Linked DNA regions of Homo sapiens: region 2 is linked to region 1. Evidence: fine-mapped expression QTL. A gene starts in region 1. The other region holds a variant in brackets. All regions are shown on one strand. Distances are between the middles of the regions.

Region 1 (2,900 bases):
TTAGCTCGAATTGGAACTGAATCCCACACCTCTCCTTCATGGCAGCCTACACTCTTCCTTCTTCAGATGAGCTACTTCGTTCCTTCATTAAATAAGCATTCATTGGGCATTTACTATGCCCTTGGCACAGAAAGACAAGAAAGATCTCGTGCCTGCCCCTTAAGAAGGTCGCAATCCAATTCAAGGTGGATCTACAGGGATTGGGTAAAGGGGTTTTTTGCACACAGGCTTCGGAATCAGATCTGTGCTCAGGTCCTGTGCCTACCACTCATTTAGCCTTGGTTTCCTCACACAAAAAACAGGAATAATAACACCGCCTGCTTCACAGGGCTGACGTGCAGATTAAGCGTGATGACACATGCTGTTCCATGTTTGAAAGGCTGTTGACTGGTAAATCCTTATTAAGGCTGTTGACTGGTAAATCCTTATATAATCAGTGCTCAGTAATACTTTTTATCTTAAAGGCAAATAACTGTAATAGACTATATTGGATGAAGACCTCACTGCTTTGATCAAGTAATGGCTGGTTTACTTGCTTCTGCTTCTCTCACTAGAGAGGGCAGACAACGGTAAATGTCTGTTGAACGAATACAGACCTGAGGTGCTACAGGAGAGGCCCATAGGGACCCTGAGGAGGAAAGGCATCAGAGAAATTGATCTTTGAGGGCCTGGCCCCACCCTCTCCGGGATCCCAGGGCATTTTACCACATTCTGATTGTAATTACCTGTTTGCTAACATCCCCACTAACGTGAGCTCTCTCTAACCCTGGGGCTATTCTCCAGGCTGCAGCAGGGCAAAGGCGGGGTCCCAACACCATAGAGAACGCCACCCCTGTCCATGCTGTCCCCCACTTCACCTTTTCTTGGAGCGGTCCTTCCACACTCGCCCCGATTTGGGCTTCCCCTTCGGGATTACAGGAAGCTCCTCTTTATTCAACTTCTTGGACGCTGGGGCCTGGGATGAAGAACCTTTTCGCTTCTTTGCCCCGAAGCCGCCTGTCACCGTCTCCCCAGCTGGAGGTGGCTTGCTCGGCTCATGCTGACCCCGGGGGGAGCCAGGTGCCCTGGGTGTCAGCTCCAGTAGTGGCTGAGAGGGCTCCGGACCGGGAGCTTGCTGACCGGGGTAAGGCTCTGGTGATCCTGGGACCGGCGGTAGCTGATGCTGGGGGGCCCCCGGGGTCAGCTCCTCCTTATTCTGGGCCAACTCCGAGGCCAGTACTCCCTGGTCCTGAGAACACTTTGGTGCCTCCTCACTTGGCTTCGGCTGACATCGTGGGGATTCAGGACTGTACTCTGGCTGTCTTTGAGGCGACTCCAGGTGTAGGTCTTGCTGACGCTGGGGGGACGCTGCGCCTGGCTCTGGCTGCCCTTGGGGTGACTCCAAGCCTGCACCCTGCTGCAGACGGGGTGATCCTGGGCTTGTCTTCGGCGGCCTTTCGGGGGACCCCAGGCCAGCCCGCTGCACACTCGGAGGAGACCCGGGCTCCCTCGTTTCTTCTGGGTTCGACTCGAACTCCACAAGGGCCCGTCTCGTCCGCGAAACTGAGGTGAGGCTCTCGGGGGATTCGGGCCTTAGGCCTCCCAGCCGTCGGCTGCGCCTTAACGGTGTATCCATGGCTCAGCCGGTAAGTTTCCACACCCCTGCGCACGTGCAGCCCCCGCCGAAACCGGCGCCTTCCTATGACGTCAGGAGTCGCCGCGTCCGTGACGCACAGGAGGGGGGCTGTTGCTGAGGCGGCCATGTTGGTGAGGGGTGGAGAGGCGGGACCGGGGTTGGGGAGAGTGGGGCTCAGCATGCGCATGCGCAATTCGCGCGAGCGCAGTCAACATGTGATTGATGAGCCAGTCTTTTTCCTGGGATTCGCTTTTGCCTTTCTTGCAAAGTTTCCTGGGGAAAGAAGAGCGAGCAAGTAGAAAAGGGAAAGTGGGAGGACCCATTTCAGGGAGAGAACAGAGTCGAAAAAAGGTCCGAGGAGCCCATAGGCAAGGCCCAGTGGATGTTTTGCAGCCAACTCCGGTGCAGTTGGGCAGAGTCCTGCCCTCCTTGGGCCTGTTTTCTCATTTGTAATAGGGGTCATTTTGCACTAGCTTCGTGCATCCCAAATGATCCTGTCAGAGTCCTCCTCCCACCTACCTGAGGGACTGCTACCTGGGGGTCCTGGAGGTGGAAGATCGGTCTTTTCTGTGTTAATTGTTCACACTCTTGATTCTTCCGTCCTGTGCTTCCGTATATAATCCATAGCTCTCCCTCCCTTTTCAGCGTTTTCAACGTTTGTGAGGGAAGTTGAGGTACCAATAAGATGCACCACCTTTGTCCTGTGGCTCACCTGGGCCCTCGACCAGCTGCATATCCTCCCACGTCCCTCTTCTTCTACCCCAGTTCTAGAAACGGGTTGGATCATCTCCGATCTTCCTTTCAGCCCAGACAGTGGTTTTTGCTCGTGTGTGAACCTGCTTCGCCTCCCCTCCCTTCCCTTGCTATTCACCTGTAAATGTACTTTGCTTACTAAGCACTTTGGGACCTCACCAGTGAGCAGGTGTTGACTTCTGGACCTCCCAAGGCCTAGAGAAGACTCTCGGGATGTGGGGTTGGGGAATGTGGGGCTGTGGAGACTTTCGTGTGAGACCTAGGAGTGGGGCTTTGATTTACTTACAGCATGCTTCTTAGGAAGAACATCTTGGAAGTGGCCCAGTTGTGTAATTCTTGGAACTGCCTGGGGTTGGCCATTAAAGGTCCCAGGGCCCCGTCTGACATTCCAGTGGTTTCTTTTAGAAACCATTGTTTCTCCAGCTGCGGGCTTGTGAGAGGGCCTGGGAAATTGTCCAAGAATATCAGGGATCAGAGTGTCCTCATCTTCCTCATGTTCCTGAGTCAAGGAGACCCCTGCAGGGGGGCTTTG
Region 2 (2,900 bases), 20 kb after region 1:
TGCAGACTGACTCAGCCCGTGTACGGTGGGGCTTAAATTCTGCATTTATTTATTTATTTATTTATTTATTTTTATTTTTAATTTTTTTTTTGAGATGGAGTCTCCCTCTTGCTCTGTCGCCAGGCTGGAGTGCAGTGGCGCAATCTCGTCTCACTGCAACCTCTGCCTCCCAGGTTCAAGCGATTCTCCTGCCTCAGCCTCCTAAGTAGCTGAGACTACAGGTCTGTGTCACCATGCCCAGCTAATTTTTATATTTTTAGTAGAGATGGAGTTTCTCCATGTTGGCCAGGATGGTCTTGATCTCTTGACCTCGTGATCCTGCCCGCCTCGGCCTGCCAAAGTGCTGGGATTACAGGCGTGAGTCACCATGCCTGGCCTGCATTTTTTTTTTTAAGAGACAGGGTCTTGCTCTCTGGCCCAGGCTGGAATGCAGTGGCACCATCATAGCTCACTGCAGCCTCCAACTCCTGGGCTCAAGTGAACCTCCTGCCTCAGCCTCCTGAGTAGCTGGGACTACAGGTATGTACCACCATACCCAGCTAGTTTTCCTTTTTAATTTTTTTTTCCTTTTTTATATCTTGTTGCATATCAACATTTTTTATTTTTAGTAGAGACAAGGTCGTGCTATGTTGCTCAGGTGTTCTCAAACTCCTTGCCTCAAGAGATCCTCCCCTCAGCCTCCCAAAGCTCTGGGATTGCAGGCTTGAGCCACTGGAGCTGGCCTGAGACTCTGCATTTCTAACAAGCTCCCAGGTGATGCCAAAGATGCTGGTCTCTGGCCCATGCTTGGAGGTGGGAGGGACTAGTCTCTCATTTTGAAGATGGAGAAACTAAGACTGAGAGAAGGAGGCAACCTGCCTAAGTCACAGGGCTGCTAAGTGATAGATCTGGATCTAGAAATCAAGTCCCAGGGGCTTTTGTTTCATTGTAGTGGCTGAGCGCCTTGACTTGAGTGTTACCCTCGGGGTAAGTCCCCAGGGACACCACCTTTCTCCTTCCTCGGCTGCATATATTGGGGCAGAGGCCCTTTGCCACGACTCCCCCCACCACACGCTGTGAACCAGCTTCAGCTCTTTAGCTGGCCGCCTCAACAGCCCAGTGCCTCCCCTGGGCCATCCAATCCCATGTGGGGTGGGCCTGGAACTTCCCCTCGAGCTCAGAACAGTTCCACCCCCTGCAGCTTCACTCCCACTTCACAGACTCAAACTCCCTCCCAAGGGTGCAGGGAGGATCTGCAGTCCTGGTCTTTGCAGTCCTCTCTGTCTCTGGGCCACCACCAAGTGGGATCTCCAGGGTCCTCAGGAGCACTCCTCCTGCCAGCGGGTACAAGTAAGTGGTGGGGAACTCGGTGGAGCTCGAGGAGGCAGCCAGGATGCGGCCCGCCCCCC[A/C]ACCTGCCAGCCACCAGTTGCCAGCAGCTGATAATGATCTGCAGGGCCTGGGGGTGGAGGGGGGAGGGCGCAGAGCTAAAGCCTTGGGCTTTCGGGGTTGGGGCTGTGTCTCCCAGGACTTGAGTGGCTGGGCAGGTCTCTGTGCACATGTCTCTGCCGAAAAGGATCTTAGACAAACTCCCCATCCACCTCCTTCCTTGGCAGCCAAGAAAACAGAGGCCTGGAGAGAATAAGAACCTTGCCAACTTCCCCAGCCAGTGAGGGCAGGCGCAGAACCAGGCCTCTTCGTCCCAGGGGCACCGCAGGATTGCAGAACCCTAGAAAGCTTGGGTGAGGGCCATCTCAGGCATCAAGCCCAACACATTGGTTACCTCCAAGGTGCTGGCCCTGAGTGCACCGAGCTTGCTCTGTGCACCAAGTCATTTAGCTCTCACCACACCCATGAATGGAGCAGCACCCTGCTCATGGCATTCTAGGGACGAAGCTGGGGTCTCAGAGTGGGATCGGAGCCTGCCTCTGCCCATGTTCCCTAAGCCTCCATACCGCACATGCAAGCCTGTCCTTCCAGGGCACAGGGTTGACTCAGCCTAGGCTGAAGCCCAGAAGTTTGCGATCATTTGTCTCAAATAGGCTTCTCTGACCTGAGAGCAGCACTTTGACCTCACCCTCAACACTCCACCTCTCTGTCACCCAAGAGGAGTAGCTTCTCCCAGCAGGCTCCGCTCCTCCCATCGTTTCGTGCTCAACGGCAAGGTAAAAGAGACCTCATTTTCAAAACTGGGACCCAGAGCCACACATGCAGAGAACGGAGGAGCTAGGATTCCAGTGCCTGGCTGGGCCCATACTCTCTGCTCAGCTGCCCACATTGACATCAGCGGGAGACAGGCACAGACTTCTGCCCACACGTGCTGGTCTCACCACTGACCAAGACCCAATCAGCTACAATGAGGAGAGCCTTGATGCAGGGGTGCGGCATCAGAAAAGGAAAGCTCCCGGTTCACCCCAGAGTTGCCTTAGAGCGATGGTACCCAGCTCCTGGGGCCTGGCAAGGGGGACATAGGTTTGCTCTCGTATCCTGGATTCAAGCAGTGCTTTCCAGGGCAGTGGCAGCCCCAGCCCTTTGCTGCTAATTTTCAGGGCTGGAGGCCAGGAAGGAAAACCCCAGCAGCTCTGTCTTGCCTCCCTGCTGCTCCACAGTCCCTCCACTGGTATGTACCCTTGGCCCCATAAATTCTACTGACTGCATCACTGTTGGGATTGGCAGTGGCTGCACAGGTCTGTGGAGACTGGGTGATCCACTTACTCCCAAGATGGTTGGCTGTCCCCGGAAAAAGAGCTTCTCTCTGCTGGGGTGGGCATTGCCCAGGGTCTCAGCCTACCAGGATGGCTCCTCTGGGCTCTGCCATGGCACCCCTGAGTTTTCAGAAGGAGGGAGCCTCACTAATTGCTGCTGCCCTGTCAGCTGGCTTCAGAAGGCAGGTGGGCTGTGGGCTGGGCTGCCTCATGTCTCCT

What was found. PIP is the estimated chance that this variant, and not a neighbour inherited with it, causes the effect.
Region 2: its variant is the best candidate, but not a certain one, in a credible set for the expression of CCDC86 in whole blood (INTERVAL, PIP 0.62).

What each region holds. Positions count from the first base shown.
Region 1 is chr11:60,840,840-60,843,739 of GRCh38, reverse strand. CCDC86 (coiled-coil domain containing 86) reads right to left here and starts at 1,627. Exons shown (of 4, transcript NM_024098.4): 1 at 858-1,627. The coding sequence starts at 1,615. CCDC86-AS1 (CCDC86 antisense RNA 1) reads left to right here. Exons shown (of 2, transcript NR_182293.1): 2 at 1,760-1,934. RefSeq lists enhancers at 1,202-1,431, 1,338-2,537.
Region 2 is chr11:60,820,515-60,823,414 of GRCh38, reverse strand. The region is part of intron 2 of LOC105369322 (a long non-coding RNA gene); the gene reads left to right. Among named protein-coding and RNA genes, the nearest start is that of CCDC86, 20 kb to the left of the region's middle. The variant A/C (reference allele first, on the strand shown) is at 1,389.